Regions from separate parts of the Homo sapiens genome. Here region 2 is linked to region 1. Evidence: fine-mapped expression QTL. Tissue or cell type: whole blood. Region 1 holds a variant in brackets; the other region holds the start of a gene. All regions are shown on one strand. Distances are between the middles of the regions.

Region 1 (8,102 bases):
GAGACAGGCCTGGGATAACAGGCGTGAGCCACCGCGACTGGCCGCCTATGTCTTAATCGTCTTTTCATGTGTTCCACATTCTAGGCAAACTACTGCTTCCATGTGGCCCACTCTCTCCAGCCTCCAGCCCTTTCTTCAAGCTGTTTTCTCTACCTGGCATGCCCTCTTCTAACACACAATGTCCCCACACGTCTCAATCCAATGTCTACTTTAACTTCTAGATAAAATGTTTCTTCCTCCGTGAAGACATCCCTGACTCTCCCACGTGGATCTGAGGTTTTTCTCCTCTGAACGTTTATATCAAAGGCATTGTTTCTCAACTTCTATTACAGTAATTTGTGTCCTTTTCTCAAGTCCATTCCAGGCAGGGAGTGTCTTCATGGCTAGATCTAAGCCTGGTTGATTTAAGCCTACACAGACCCTGCAGGGTCAAGGTGCCTTTGGGATCTGCGGAGTGAAGGATTGGACACCCTCCCTGCACTGCCTCTATGTGAGGAGGCCACCTAGACAGCCAGTGCCCTGGCCAGAGGCAATTCCTCTGTGGTGTGAGGTGCTGGGAGCCAGACACTGACTCCATGAGGCTCTGAGATCCTAGCCCAGGGTGGACACCCCCACAAAAGCTTCTTGTGGAATGTGGAATTCTAAATGCCAGCCAACCCTTCCTTATCAGAAGTTAAGAACAATCCTTTTTTGCCTGGCACTGTGCTGTTTGTTTCACATCCATCTTTTAAAAACTCTATCATTGGGCCAGGTGCAGTGGCTCATGCCAGTAATCCCAGTACTTTGAAAGGCTGAGGTGGGTGGATCATTTGAGGCCAGGAGTTCGAGACCAGCCTGGCCAACATGGTGAAACCCCATCTCTACTAAAAATACAAAAGTCAGCTGGGCATGGTGGTGCACACCTGTAGTCCTAGCTACTTAGGAGGGTGTGGCATGAGAATCGCTTGAACCCATGAGGTGGAGGTTGCAGTGAGCCGTGATTGCGCTACTGCACTCCAGCCTGGGTGACAGAGAGAGACTCTGTCTCAAAAATAAATAAATTAAAATAAATTAAAAATCAAAAAAATAAAAGCTCGGCTGGGCGCAGTGGCTCACGCCTGTAATCCCAGCACCTTGGGAGGCCGAGGTGGGCGGATCACGAGGTCAGGAGATCAAGACCATCCTGGCTAACACGGTGAAACCCCATCTCTACTAAAAATATAAAAAATTAGCCGGGCGTGGTGGCGGGCGCCTGTAGTCCCAGCTACTCAGGAGGCAGAGGCAGGAGAATGGCGTGAGCACGGGAGGCGGAGCTTGCAGCAAGCCAAGATCACACCACTGCACTCCAGCCTGGGCGACAGAGAAAGACTCCGTCTCAAAAAAAAATAAAAATAAAAATAATAAATAAATAAATAAACAAAATAAAAACTCATTGTCCCCCTCTTACAGACGAAGATTGAGGCTTAGAGGAATTAAGTCACTTGTTCAAGATTCATTCATTCATTCATCCCAAATGTATTTTTTGGGTACTCGGGGTGTGCCTGGCACTGGAGCCTAGTGGAATGAGGGGAAAGACACACAGAGACACATCTAAATGTAACGTGTGTGATGCAGAAAAACAGAGTGGCTAAGGAGGAGCTCCATTTAGGTGTGGCGGGGGAGCACAGCCAGGAGATGGGCAGCGTTCGGGCAGAGGCTTGAAGGAGGCCCAGGAGAAAGGGGCCAAGGGCACGGCGGGCAGAATGCACAGCACATTGAAAATCCCAAGATAAAGGTTGTGTGCAGCGGGAAAGGGGGAAAGTAGTGGGCAGTGAGGGGGTGGAGGCCAGATCACACATGGCCCTGGGGCTTCAAGAAAGGGGGTCTGGATGGCTTAGGAACTGGATCTGACTGGCTGCTGTATGATGAGTGGCTGGGCCCAACGGGACTCCAGAGCTACCCATCTTGGTTTGGTGAATTGTCCTCTAGGCACTTACGGATGAGGAGGACGGGGGCAGGAGCACCTGGGTCTGTGCTTTGAGACCCTGTGAAGGCAGCTGGAGATGCTCCCCAGCTGTGGGGGTAGCTGTTTACCAGTCCAGGAACAAGAATTCAACAAGACCACAGGGCATGTGAGCCAGGTGCCTCACCTCAGCTCCTGGGGGAGCCTCCAGCTGTCTTTGACAGTGCCAGAGCCTCCCAGGCCCACGGACACAGGGTTGCAGTGCTGTCTTGGGTATACATTGTGGCCACACAGAGCTATGCATTGATCATGGCAAACACGGCCTGTGGACCACAGCCAAGAGGTGCAGATGCATGGCTCTGATAACAAGATTAATGATGATTATTGGAAAGGAGAAAAGAAAGGAAATCAAAGAGGTCCCATTCACCCCTGTAAAACATTAAGAGATAGCAGAGGCAGTGCCAGGAGAGCCTGGTAGGGAGCTGAGCCCCAGGGAGGGTCTTTGTAGTTGCTGGGATAGCTTAGCTGCAGGCAGTGGGCCAGCAGAATGGGTTGAGTCCTGGAAACCCACGCTTGGATCCACCACTTACTAGCTGCCTCAGTTTCCTCATCCTCCACAGTGGGAGCAAGACCTCCACCTTGCAAACCATCCTGAGGGCTAGAGATCATGCAAAATGCCGGACGCCGCAGACGCAAACCTGCGTGAAGGCCGACACCATGTTGCTGAGCGCACCACAGACAGCACCTCTTTTAAGTCTCACAACACCTGAGGAGGAGGGTGCAATTCCTGCCCCTGTTTTACAGATGGGGAAACTGAGGCTTAGAGAATCATCTAAACCTCCCAGGGCTGATGAACAGGGAGCCAGGACTCAACTCTGGCCATCTTCCCTGGTTGCTCTGCCCTTCACTGCTGTGCCATTCCATTCCTGCACAACTTGGGAGACTGGGCCTGGTTTGGAGGGTCCAAGAAGGTCCCAGGGAAGTACTCTTGGCTTTGAGACCACAGGCTACCTCCTGAAGGCCTGTGGCTTAGCCTGACCCTATCTCCCACCTCTGGGCTGGAGCAAGGCCCCCCTGCAGCAGGCACTACCTTGCAGAGAGCTGCCGCCTCTCCCTAGGAGCCTGGGCACCCTCTGCAGGAGCCCCCCCAGATGCCCTCGAGGGATGGCTCTTCTTACCTACACCATTCTGGGCCCCACCACTGATCCCCTGGCCCAGGCTCACTCATAGGAGGGTCTGAGTTGGTCTTTTTCTCTGACAGATGGTAGCCCTGGAAGGAAGAGATCCTGCCAGATGCATCTTTGGAGCCACCAAAGAGCCTAGTGTGATGCCAGGTGCATGGTAGGTTTGGAGTAAATATATAGTAAATTAACCCTGACATAGAACAGAGCAGGAGCCGAGAGCACACATGACCACAGGCCAGACAGGTGGCCTTCTCTCCATCAGGCCATGACGAATCCATCTGGTTTACTCCCAGCATCAGTAAAGAGGAGACCAGCCCACACTCCTATAGACCAAGGGCCTCCCTTTTCTTTGGTCCACAGGCCCCTTCCAGAACCTCACAGAAGCCACTCAGGCTTCCCCTTGCCAGACTTACCTGTGTTAGAGAGGGAGGAAGGAGCCTGAGACAGATTCCTACAAAGGACAGAGTAGGGCAGAAACTTTGGAATCAGGTAGACTTAGAATAAAATCATAATTGTCCTATTACTAGCTGTGTGACTTCTGGTCAGCTACCTTATCTCATGAGCCTCAACATCCTCCTCTGTGAAATGCAGATAATGTAGACGACTGAAGCCACTGATGCTAGTGGATACACAATGAGGTTTGTTTTCCTTAAATGTAAATGGACTACAGAGGATACCTATGAGTTGCCTCTCATTTGATGATGATGATGATGATGATGATGATGATGATGACGATGATGATGATTATTGTTATTTTTTGAGTCAGGGTCTCACTCTGTTGTCCAAGCTGCAGTGCAGTGGCACGATCACAGCTCACTGCAGCCTTGACTTCCCTGGGCTCACGTGATCCTCCCACCTCAGCCTCCTGAGTAGCTGGACTACATGAGCATGCCACCACGCCTGGCTAATTTTTTTGTACAGACGGGGTTTCGCCATGTTGCCCAGGCTGGTCTCAAACTCCTGGGCTCAGGCGGTCTGTCCACCTCGACCTCCCAAAGTGCTGGGATTACAGGCATGAGCCACCAGGCCTGGCCTCATTTGATTTTTTTAAAGCAGCAGCGATTGTGGGGGAAGCACAGGCTTGTGGTCAAACCATGTGCCTTGGCTCTGTGGCTTACCAGCCTGTGACCACAGCCAAATGAC[T/G]TAACCTCTCTGAGCCAGCAGCGAGTCTGCATCTGTCCAAGGTACTAGCAATAACCCTGTCGCAGATGTGGGTGGCCTGAATCAGGTGAAGGGTGCAGGACTCCATGAACAGAGTCTGGCAGGAGAGTGAAAAGGAGGAGGAAGTGCCCACACAGGGAGAACCCCCTCCCCGCTTGCCCTGTCCACCCACCCACAGCCAAGCCAGGCCTCATCCAGTCGTGACAGCCCTGAGCATGCTTCTGGGGCAAGAACTGCCTCTGTTTCAGACCTCAGTGCCCAAACAATTCACAAATGCAGCAAACGTGCCACGGCCCAGGAGACAGCTCTCCGCTTCAGAGAAAACACACAGTTCAATTTCCTAAAGATCGAAGCCCAGGAGCATTTCAAGGCTTTCCTGGCGAGAGCAGTTCTCAGAACTCAGGAGGCACCACCCTCATGTGACTGAACAATTAAAGCCCCTAGTATTTGTCATTCTCAGCTAAGGTTTTCGAGGATGGCTGAGAAAACTAAAAAAAAAAAAAAATCTGATTTTGGCAGTGTGGCTTTCAGAAATATATGGTAATCCATTTTTGTCAATTCACAGAAGGCACAGCTCAAATCATTAAAAAGCCATCGTGCTTAATCATGCGTGGAGAAGGCCAGTCTCTGCCTCTGAGATCATTTTAAAACGGTTTCAGGGTAACTGTCAAAAACTGACAGGGAAGCAGGGAGGGGATTATGACAGACCATAATCTGAGGAATTTCTCTTTCTGGTTCTCAAAGGGTAAGGGATTTATCTGAGAGGAAATCACCACCCAGACCTTGGCCTTGGTGCTGGTGGGGACAGTGGTGAGGAAGATTCTAGGATGCATCAGGCCTGACCTCTGTCCTTACGGAGGCTGCAGCTGCTTTCTCAGAAAGACAGTAAGCAATTTCCCAGCAAAACAGCAAGTAAATGAATGATTATGAAGCCTTGTGACAGGTGCTAAGAATAGGTGGAAGTTTATGCAGCTGTTAAGGCCTGGCTGTGAGCCACGGGGACCTGGGTTTGGAATTTGACTTTGCCACTCTGCAGCTGTGTGACCTCACACACACTCCTCACAGACCTGGGTTCCTCATCTAGAAAATGGGATGCCTGGCCAGGCACGGGGGCTCATGCCTGTAATCCCAACACTTTGGGAGACCGAGGTGGGCAGATCATGAGGTCAAGAGATGGAGACTATCCTGGCCAACATGGTGACACCCTGTCTCTATTAAAAATATAAAAATTAGCTGGGCGTGGTGGTGGGCGCCTGTAGTCCCAGCTACTCGGGAGGCTGAGGCAGGAGAATTGCTTGAACCCTGGAGGCAGAGGTTGCAGTGAGCCGAGATCATGCCATTGCACTCCAGCCTGGGTGACAGAACTAGATCACATCATTGCACTCCAGCCTGGGCAACAGAGCGAGACACCATCTCAAAAAAAAAAAAAAGAAGAAAAAGAAAATGGGACGCCTGCCTTGTAGGCTTGGGAGCTCAATGAGTTAATTCCTGGGAAGCTTTTATTGCAGTGCCTGGTACACAGTAAGCTCTCAATAAATGCTGGCCGAGTGGCTAACTCTGCTCAGGAAGCCTCATGGACCTGTGATGGATCGGGAAGGATGAGCAGGAACCCGCAGGGTGGAGAGCAACAGGGGGGACATTCCAGGCAGAGAGCACAGCATGTGCAAAGGCCCTGAGGTAGGAAGCTGGTCAGGGAGGAGCATAGGTTTCGGGGGAGGGAATAAGGGGAGCAATGTGGCCAGTCAGCTGGAGCCATCCTGGGAAAGACTTCAAATGCAGGCCAAGGGGTTTGGTCTCTATGTTGAGGGCCATGAGGAGCCACAGAGGGGTGTCTCAGGGCTGGGCCATGAGCAAACCATGTACATTAGAAGCTAACGAAGGGGCAAGAGGCTGCCGAGAAGGCTGGAACAGCATTTGGAGATCCAGAATCCTTCTGGGGTCAGAGCCACACAGCGAGTCTTCTTCCAGGTCTCAGACCACACTGGGCACTTGTTGACGCCTAGGTGACCAAACTCTCACTAGGGGTCCCCAGCCTTTATTTGAGGGTAATATCCTCTACTGTGCCAGCAACGATTCTGCACCAGTTCCCCTTCCTTAGACAGAGCCGTTGAAGGGAAATAGCCGCCCAGGCAGGCACTGCGTTTCCCAGCCTTTCTGCATCTAGGTGGAGCCGCAGGACCCAATGGGGTGTGGGCATAGGCTCCATACACCACTTTGAGGCCTGGCCCATAAAAACCATTCATGGATATTCCAAGGCCGAGGCAATCTTGGGTGTTACAACCTGAAGATGATGGCGCCTCCATCACCCTGAGTGCCTGAGTCATCAGAGGGAACAGAGCTCTCCCCACCATCAATATGACTTTACATGAGCAAGAAAGAAATGTCTGTTGTCTCCAAGCACTGAAGTCTCTGGGTTTATCTGTCACAGCAGCCAGCATTACCCTAAACAGACCCACCAGGCAGAATGACCTTGAGCACTTCACCTCCCTGAGCCTGTTTCTCTCAAACAGATTGTTGTGAGTGCCTAATACGATGACAAGTGTGAGTGCTTTGCAAGCAGCGAGGAACCACAGAGATCCGTCTGTCATGGGGTTACTGGCTTTGGTCCCTCTGAGAACCCGAGGTTGCAGAGGGGAGGGGACTCCGGCCAGTCCCTGCTGAGGCAGGGGAGTGCAGCAGCTAAGGCCCGGAGAAGCTCGCAGCAGGGGCTCAAGATCCACCAGCAGGTCCTGGCCTAGGCTGGGGACTCTCACTCCAGGCTTTAGTTCAGCCCTTTGAGAGATGCTCCTCAAATAGCTGAGCCGCCCAAAGGGAGGAGGCTGGGGCCTGGCTTCCATCTCCTGGAAGCTGCCCCGGGAAGCAGTCCTCCCAGCCTCTCTCTGATAACTTGTTCCAACCTCTCACAACTCATTAACAGGAAACTGCATTCCCTGCCAGGAAGACGCACGCCTGATTTTTCAGACATGGCAGGTAGACTGTGTTATCAAAGCCTTGTCATGTGTCTGCACGGCCCCCACGCTCTCCTGCTCTCTGGTGTCCTCGGCCAGGCTCTGTGCTCAGAGCATGCATTGCCTTTGGATGTGGCTGGGCAATCTGCCAGCTTGTCTGGCCAGGGCCAGGGGCCCAGGATGGATTCCCGTGAGGGTGGCTGAGGCTCAGCCTGTACCCCGCTCCTAAGCATCCCACACTCCCTGCCCAGAACTGGGGCTGAGACCCCACAGGGGGACAGGGTGGGGAAGGCCTGAGCAACACAGGATGTGAAGAGCTGTCTCTGGCCTCAGTGACTTTCACACAGAATACCATGGGCACTCCGTGTCCTTTTGCTGCAGGGTTCCTCTGCCATAGCTTTGGGATGGGGGTAGAGAATGCTCACCCCCAGCCTCTGGAGCCTGGAGTCGGGGGCAAGGCCATTTTGTCCTGCACGTATCCCCCACTGTCCCGTTCTCGGGCAGGGTGGGTGCAGACACCAACCTCCTCCACCTCCCATGCTGTCTCATTCCTTCACACAGTCGCTCACCGCCTCTCACTGGGGACCCGTGAGGAGTTCTCAAATCACCTGGCAGAGGAAATACCACCAGTGCCCTGGACTACGACAAGGACATGAAGTATCCATTTCCAAAGTCTATCCACAGGCAGGACTTAGTCTGTTTGTTCCTTATCCCCACCCTGAGCAGTGTTGTTAAACCCGGTTCACAGAGGAGGAATTTAAATGACTAGTGCCTAAGGTCATCCAGCTAGTCCACTGGGTAGTAATCTGAGCTGGGTCTAGCAGCCTCCATGATCATCATGGTTATGTGTCTAATACAGCCTTCATGCCAAAACCTAAACCAAGAATT
Region 2 (8,088 bases), 110 kb after region 1:
TTGAACTTGAATCCATAAGAAACCCGCCTATGAATGACATCCCCCATTTCCTATATTATCCTCAGATCTGAAAGGCAAGGCTACTACCAAGCCTTCACCCCTTTACATTCCAGCCAACACCTTTACTCTTCGTGATTCCAAGCTGAGGGTAATGGGAATAATTAACTTAACCAACTGCCTGAATATCTATTCTTGGATAGGTGCTAGACAGAGATACAGCAGTGAACATCACGACCCCATCAACACCACCACTACCACCACACCATTGTCCCTGATTTCCAGTACAAGATATCTCAAAACAGAGTTCGGAAAGCCCAACCGCTATGGAGTCCCTGACCAGACTGCCAGTTCACTTAGGGGCCAGGGCCAGAAGCAAGAGGGTCTATAACCAGCTTATTCTCCTCTCCCTCACCCCATTTTACAGGAAGGTCCAGGAAGGAGAGGTGGGTTGCCCAAAGTCAGACAGTTGAGAGTGTGCTGAAACTCCAACCCATGTTCTGTGGGTCTCCTCTCTCCACCACATTGCTTTTGCCAAGGTTCCAAAATTGGAAAGTGAGGAAAAACAGTTGGTTCTAGTGACAGAGTGTTTCCTGACATATGCATGCCCAGAACCTGCAGCCTCAACCATCTTAACAACACAGACCTGGTGACCATGTCCATCTCTCGGGATGCTCATGAATGCACAGTATTGATCTAGAGTCCAAGTGTCCAGTTTTCATTCATGCTCATTTATCACCTTCTCTCTCTCCTGATATTTACTTTCACTTTAAAATCTTATAAGAACAGGGCCTTTTTTTATCTGATGCCAGCTCCCCCTCTGTTCCTTGGATTTAATCAATCCATGTCTGGAAATAAACAAACCAGGGAGGAAAGCAACAGTCCCTTTTGTGAAAACAGGCACCTTTCTAAAATGATCTACCCCTGGGCATGACGCAGATAGAATTTAAATGTGAAGGAAATAAAGACATTCTCCAGCAACCATCATATGCGTTCTTCCTGGGGTGGGACAGCAGGAATGGTAACTGTTAACAACTAAACCAAAACCCACTCTACATCTTTCAGGTTGTCGTGAGAGCGTGGTCAGTGGCAGGAAGCCTGAAGAGACAATAGGTTTCAAAACAACAGAAACCAGCCCTCTCTTCTTCAAGATTAGTAAGAGAGGGCTAGCTGAACACCAACTCCAAGTATATGCAGCATGCCTCCAGCTAGTACCAGGGGTGCAAGGAGATACCAGCTAGAAAGATCCAGACATCTGGTCACCAACTTAGACCTTCTCCCATCATGTTATTTTATACCCACCTGCAAAGCACAGAATCCTCACCCCTCTTCCCACCCTCCAGCCACTCCAGCAAGCATCATCCCAGACTCTGCTGGCAAAATAAATTGTCTTACACAGAGAGGGAGAATCAAGTTCCCTACTAGCCAGCCCTTCCTTCCTGCCATGACTCTCCAGCCCCTGGCATTCGGAAATGGACCACCATCTAAATGCAAACACAGAGAGTATCTCTTCTGAGGAAGATGATAGTTAATTCTTAATCCTTTGGGGGATCAGTTTGAAAATCTGATGGCACCTCTGGATGCCCCATGAAAAACTGCATGCATGCAATTTATATGTAATTTCACTGGGGGTCACTGCCCTACTGGGAGGTCGAGAGGGGCAAAAAGAGCCACTGTGCTCAGAAGCAGCTTTGAGAAAGAGCTATGGGTGGTCCAAGTGAGTATTCAACAGCGTAGTTCCTTAACAAGAAAGGGAGAAATGAATGCCCCTTACTTAGCTACTGCAAGTTCCAGCTGTCACTCAACCTGAGATTTCAACAGGAATCTGGAAACTGAGAGCACACAAACATGCACACACACATACACACCAAGCACTCAGTTTCCCTGTGGCTTCCTACTGTAACTTCACAAAATGTCCTGTGATTGCTAGTTAAGTCTCCAAACAGAGTAACAGAAAAGATAAGAAGTGGAAGAGAGGTGGGCGCTGGAAGGGAGGATGGTTCAGACAAGGAGAAGGGGATAATCTGGCTAAGCCCTCCATCGGCTCTGAGCAGGTCTTGACAGGGCAGGTCCTGATCCTTGCTGCCTGCTCTTCCTGGAAATCAGGGTCGAACTGCTGACTTCTTCGCAGCAAATCAAGAAGTCCAGGCAGAAGCAGCCCTTTCTTTCCTTTGAGTCCATGGGGAGGGGAGAGCATCCTCTCGTTTCTAGGGAGGAGACCCTGGCCCACAGCTTGCCCACGGCCCCCTCGTGGCCTGGGGGTGTCACTGCAGCCCCCTCTGCATTGCTGGGCACCATCCGCACGCAGGCAGTTCTAACAGTGGTCCAGCAGAATATTTAGTGGCAGTGGCAAGCTGGCAACTGTCTTCAAGCCTTGTGAGGCTGTGTTTGCTTTTGATTTCTTAAACTAAGACTCAGACTTAAAGTGATCCTTCTAAATCCCTCCTGGTACAATCCCTACAGGGAACCAGCTCAAGATCTGCTTCATTATGCCAATAACCTCGGAGCTTCTGTAATATGACCACTGCTTTATCATCTCTTCCTGCATCATATGCAATTATGTACAATTGTGTACAATTGTTCTGAAGCTCAATAAGCTCAATAGAAACAGAATGCACAACATCCTCTGGTTTGTAGGTTGCTTACTAGATTACAAAATATTTGCAGGACACCAAATACCCCCTTAAATCCTGGGTTTTTAGGTAAGCAGGTCCTATAGGGGTTTTGGACTTAAGGTCACACAGTGAAAAAGAATGGGACCAGTGGCTCTGTGTCCACAAATGCAAAAAGAGGGTGCACTAAGGAACCTGAACTCCACTCTCATTAGCAACTCCACAAAGGGAAGGAGTGGAGCTCACTGGGCCTGGGGGTTGGATACGACATACCAGAGTCTGGGAGTGAGGGGGCAGTTGGTCTAGGGGTTCAGCTGCCATCTGTCACGGTGGGGACGATTAACTGACCCGAGTGGTGGGAAACTGTGTAGGGAGGAAAGAAGGTGGGACATTTGGGAGGAAAGGGGAAGGTGCAAAGTGCAGTCTGCAGGGCCAGAAGTAGACCTGGGACCAGGAGTGACTGAGGCAAGGGAAAGGGGTGGGAGCGCCAGAGGGTCTTCTCTCCTTAGAGGGGGCAGTTGGTGGGAGGAGTTTGGGGGCTGAGTCCATACCTCCTTGATTTTCTCCCGCTGGGCTCGCACTTGGCTCTGGGGCTCCTGACTCTCATCGGCCCTCGTTCCCAGGACCGGGTGGCGGAGACGGCTCCGGAATGCGTTGAAGTCAAAGCGGAAAGGGACGCCCTCGTCCCCGGGCCTGGAGGCCGGGATGCTATTGCCCCGGGCCGCCGTGGCCTCCTCGCGGGGTCCAGTGGGGCGGGTGCGCCGCAGCCCCCCTTTCCTGCGGCGGGGACTGGCCCAGCTGCTGGGGTCATCCTCGCCCGGGGCCGGCGCGGCGGGGGCCGGGTTGGGAGGCGGCTCCTGCTCGCGGGCCGGGGCATGGCCGGCGATTTCAGCCACCACTTCCAGACCAGGCTGCTGGGTCCGGGGGGCCAGGAAGAGGCGCTTGAGGCGAGAGGAGTGGGGCAGCAGGAAGAGGGCCCCGAAGCACAGGGTGACCAGGCCCGAGAGGAAGAGGAGGAAGAGGAACTTCTGCGGCAGCCGCAGCCCCCACGGGGAGGCCGGGACGAAGCCGGGCACTTTCCTCATGAGCATCGTGGCCCGGCCGGTGGCTCCAGAAGCCCTCGGAGTCCAGGCACGTGTCTGCGGGGGCGCGGTGAGGGGAGGGCGTCCGGAGCGCCGCCCGGGATGGGGGTCCCTGGGCAGGGTTGCCAACCCTGAGAGTTTCGCCGCTTCGGGGGACTGTCCCCGAAGTTCAGGGAGTTTGGAGCGAGTCCTCCCGCGAGGAGGCGGGGGCGCAGCGGCCTCGGCGGGGCCCGGGCGAGCGGAGCGGCACGGCTTGGGGCCCGGGCCCGCAGCGACCGGCCGCGCGCCGCAGCCTCCCCTCCGGCCGAGCCCTCCCCGCCGCGCCGGGGCCCGCGCCTTCCCGCGCTGCGGCCGCCGGGACCGTCACATGCCGTCCGCGGCGTCCCGGCTGTCCGCGCCGAGGGGCGCCCGCAGGCCCGCACCAAGCCGCCCTCCGCCCCCTAGGCTCCCGCCCGCGCTGGTAGGCGCCCAAAGTTTCAGCTTCAGAAGCAGTTTCCGGAGGGGACCGAGGCGATGGGGGGCTGGCGTGTCAGCGCCGCCCCGAGCGCGCGCACACCCGGCCCGGTCGCGACAGCGCCCGGGCTCGACTATCGGGACACGTCCACAACTTTCTCCGCCGCGGAGAGGGCGCCGGGAGCTGGGAGCCGGAGTGGCCAGGGAGCAGGAGCAGGCACTTCCGAGCCTGCGGGGGCAGGGGGCTTCCCCCGGGCCCCAGACAGCGCAGGGATGCCTGGGTCCGGAGCCGCGGCTGGGCGGCTGCAGATGCGCCCGGGAGCGCGGGCTCCCGCCCCTCGAACTCGGCAGGGCGCGGGGCTCCCACTGGGATCACCTGTTCCCGGCCCCGCCGGCTCCGCGGAGCGCGCAGCCCTGGCCGCGCCTCCCCCGCTGCAGCTGTCTTCCTCGCAGCGGCCGCTCCAGACCGGCCGCTGCCGCCGAGCCTGCGCCCCACACGCGCGCACAGCCACCCGGCCGCCTCCACCGCCGTCCCCGCCGCCGCCGCCGCTCGGGCTTTCACTGCGACAGCGCCCGCCGCCCCGCCTCCTGCCGCCCGCCGGCCACGCCCGCCGGCCACGCCCACGCGCGCGCCCCGCGCCCCCTCCCGCCGCCGCCGCGCCGCAGCCGGCTGAGGGCCGCGCGTCCGGGGGCGGGGCAGAGGCCGAGCGCGGGCGGGAGCGCAGCCCGCTCCAAGCCCCGCCCTCCCCGAAGGGCAGGCGTCGCGCGCACCCCCCATCCAGCGGGCGCCAATGGTCCAGCGGCGCGGGGCAGGCGAGGGCGGGGGCGGAGAGCGCAACGAGGGCATTGGCTGCATCCGAGGGATCCCCGTTGGGCCACAGTCGTCCATTGGTTACTGCCCAGCCTTCGCTGGACCCCAAGCGACAGAGACCACCCCCCAGCCCGCCCGCGAGGCTCGGGTTGGTGGCCCCCGGAAGCGGGCCGGAGACGGTGTTGCTCTGGAGGGGTGTGCCCGTCGCTGGGTGACCTCTCTCGCCCCCGAGTGCCAGCCCGGGGTTGTCAGGGAGCTGGCAGCCCGCGCCCTGGCGGCTGCCCCGGGCTTCTCAGCGCTAACGCCGGGCTGCAGGGGTGCTGCTGGTGGCTGGAGCCAAGCCAGAGAGCTGTGACCGCGGCCGGGTCGGCGGAGGTGATGTTTCCACTGGCCCCCTCGCAGACCACTGGCGTGCCTTCCTTTTCCCACAACCCTAAACGGGGCCAGGGCTCCTGGGTGGAGCACGGAGGGAGGCTGACCGCAGCCTTGAGAAGCAGCGAAAGGAAGAGAGCCCCGGGCGTGTCTACAGAAGACCACACACATAATGTGACGGACGTCTACCTTGATGCCTACGTGTGTTTATATGCACATGTGTGCGTCTGGGCATAGATCTATATGCACACAGAGACTGGCATGTGGGTGTGTACATGCACTCAAACATACACTTAATTTGGGTATGGACACCCAAGTGATTATACCACAGTATGCATAGACATATATGTAAATTAGTACAAACATGGACATGTGCACCCGCATACCCACAGACACTCAGGCAACAGATAACCTCCAAAAACAGCCAGGCATCAACTCCCAGACACGCGTGTCCTCAACCCCAAGGCCCTCACATCTTCCTCCTTGGACTTAGTCTCTGCATCTTCCCTTCCTGTTAAACCTAACCCAGGGTGAAGCAACATTGTGCTGTGTGGGTCTTTCATGCAAAACACTTTATAGAGACAAATAACAGCAGAGGGAGAGACAAATTAAGAGGTTTGTAATAGGCAAGAGGGAAAATATCTACTTTCAGCTGCAATTTAAAATGAAATGCAGTGTTGACGAGACAGAAAATACTGCAGGGAAGCCTTTCCCGACAGAAGAAGCGGGCCAGGCAGGCTCTCGCCTCGTAAATCTTGCTTCTTCCCTGAGGCCTGCTGGGGATGGGCGGCTGGGACTCAGTCATCCTTCTACCTCTGGCCAGACCACTGACAGCAGACCCACCCTCGATGTTTAAATATCCCTGGCATGCAACTTTCTCTCAACTGAAAATGAAAGTGGGTAACAGGTGCAAACATTTTGGTCACTGGAGATGACTAATCCTTCCCAATCCCACAAATATATGCAGCTTAAATATAAAATTCTAATTCAGATATTTCAATCTCTTGTGAGTTTCGTTGGCAGGTTGATGTGGAGCCAGCTGTGCAAATCAGAGATAAGCATGTGACCCATTTGGGTGCAGGAGCCCAGAGACCTGGCCTGGCCTCACCCATGTCTCCAACACCCAAGCATCGCCTCACTGGGTCCCACTGCAGGAAAGGGCAACCTTGTCTTTGGAGAACCAGGCAGGGACCCAGCATTCATTAGAGTCATCATCTGTGTTGTTCCTCATTGAGAGTGTAGGGGAATCACTGTTCAGTCCCCTGTGAAGGTAGGATCCAGAAAGGGAGAAGAGCAGAGCTGAATCTCAGAAGGAAATGTCTGTTTGAACTAGATGCTCACTGTGATGTGACACTCTGACCAAACTCTGGTGTGCTCTGTGAGCCAGGGTGGAAAGTGGGGCTGCAGCAGGACTGACGTGCCTTTCACACTCAGGCTATGAAAACCAGAGGCCCCAGCAGGTAACTCCATTGCAAAGTGATGTGATGTTGGTGATCACACCAAGTTGTTGATACCATCACTTGCTAGGGAGATACCAGTCTCTCTAAAAAGCTCTCTGAAACCCTGGGTGTCCCCTTGCCCCACACCTCTAGCCCCCAGAGACCTCATACATCCCGTGGCTCTTCTCCCACTGACTTTTAAAGACTATTGGTGTGTTGTCACAAAGCAGATGCTCAGTTCTTCACCACGGCTTCCTCACTTCTCTAACTCTCTAACTTCTCTAACTGCCCCGGGTCTTAACCACAATGCCTTCCACATGGGCACTGTGTTTGCTCAGTAAATGAATGAAGAAATGAGTGAGTAGATGCCCATTTCACAGATGTAGAAACTGAAGCTCGGGGAATGGAAGAACAGTGAACTAACATTTTCTATGTGCCAAATACATATTGTCTTATTTACTTTTCAGAATAATCTTTGTGGTAGATAATTATTAATAGCCCCATTTTACAGATAAGAATACCAAGGCTTAGAGAGACTTGGGATGAGTTATAAGTATCTATATTAATCAGAGTTCTCCAGAACAGAACCAATAGGCTATATATAGATATATAAAAAGAGATTTATTATGAGGGATTGACTTCTGTGATTATGGAAGGCTGAGAAGTTCCACAATCTGCCATCTGCAATCTGGAGGTCTAAAAAGCTGGTGGTGTAGTTCCAGTCCAAGCCAGGAGGCCTGAGAACCACAAGAGCCGATAGTGTAAATCCCAGTCTGAGTCTGAAGACCCGAGAACCAGGAGAGCTGATGTCCAAGGGCAGGAGAAGATGGATGTTCCAGCTCAAGCACAGAGCATGGATTTGCCATTCCTCTTCCTTTTAGTTCTGTTTCAGCCATCAGTGGATTGGATGCTGCCCACCCATACTGGTAAGGGCAGATCTTCTTTACTCAATTTACTGATTCAATTACTAATCTCTTCCAGAAATTCCCTTACAGACACACCCAGAAGTAATGTTTTACCAGCTATGTAAGCATCCCGTAGCCCAGTCAAATTGACACACAAAATTAACCTTCACAGTATCTTTCTCAGTTTAATTCAGAAATTCAAATGGAACTGGGAACAGAAACAAACAGCTATTTCTAAAAAATCTATTTATTCTGTCAACAAATATTTATTCAAATTAGATGCAAGGTATTGCACTAGTTTTGGACACAAAGGTGAGCAAAGCATGGTCCCTTGTTACTATTGATTCATTCATCCAGTGAAAAACTACTTATTGAACATCTACTATGTGCCAGGTACAGAGAGGCAGGGGATACAGC

The links. PIP is the estimated chance that this variant, and not a neighbour inherited with it, causes the effect.
Region 2: it holds the start of MAN1C1, and the variant in region 1 is fine-mapped to the expression of MAN1C1 in whole blood (TOPMed, PIP above 0.99). The same link has a PIP of 0.9 or more in blood mononuclear cells, lung and monocytes.

The regions. Positions count from the first base shown.
Region 1 is chr1:25,727,072-25,735,173 of GRCh38, reverse strand. The region is part of intron 2 of MAN1C1 (mannosidase alpha class 1C member 1); the gene reads right to left. Among named protein-coding and RNA genes, the nearest start is that of SELENON, 69 kb to the left of the region's middle. The variant T/G (reference allele first, on the strand shown) is at 4,249.
Region 2 is chr1:25,613,410-25,621,497 of GRCh38, reverse strand. MAN1C1 (mannosidase alpha class 1C member 1) reads right to left here and starts at 4,707. Exons shown (of 12, transcript NM_020379.4): 1 at 3,161-4,707. The coding sequence starts at 3,700. RefSeq lists enhancers at 1-147, 1,016-1,065, 5,272-5,441 and silencers at 4,482-4,771, 4,792-5,081.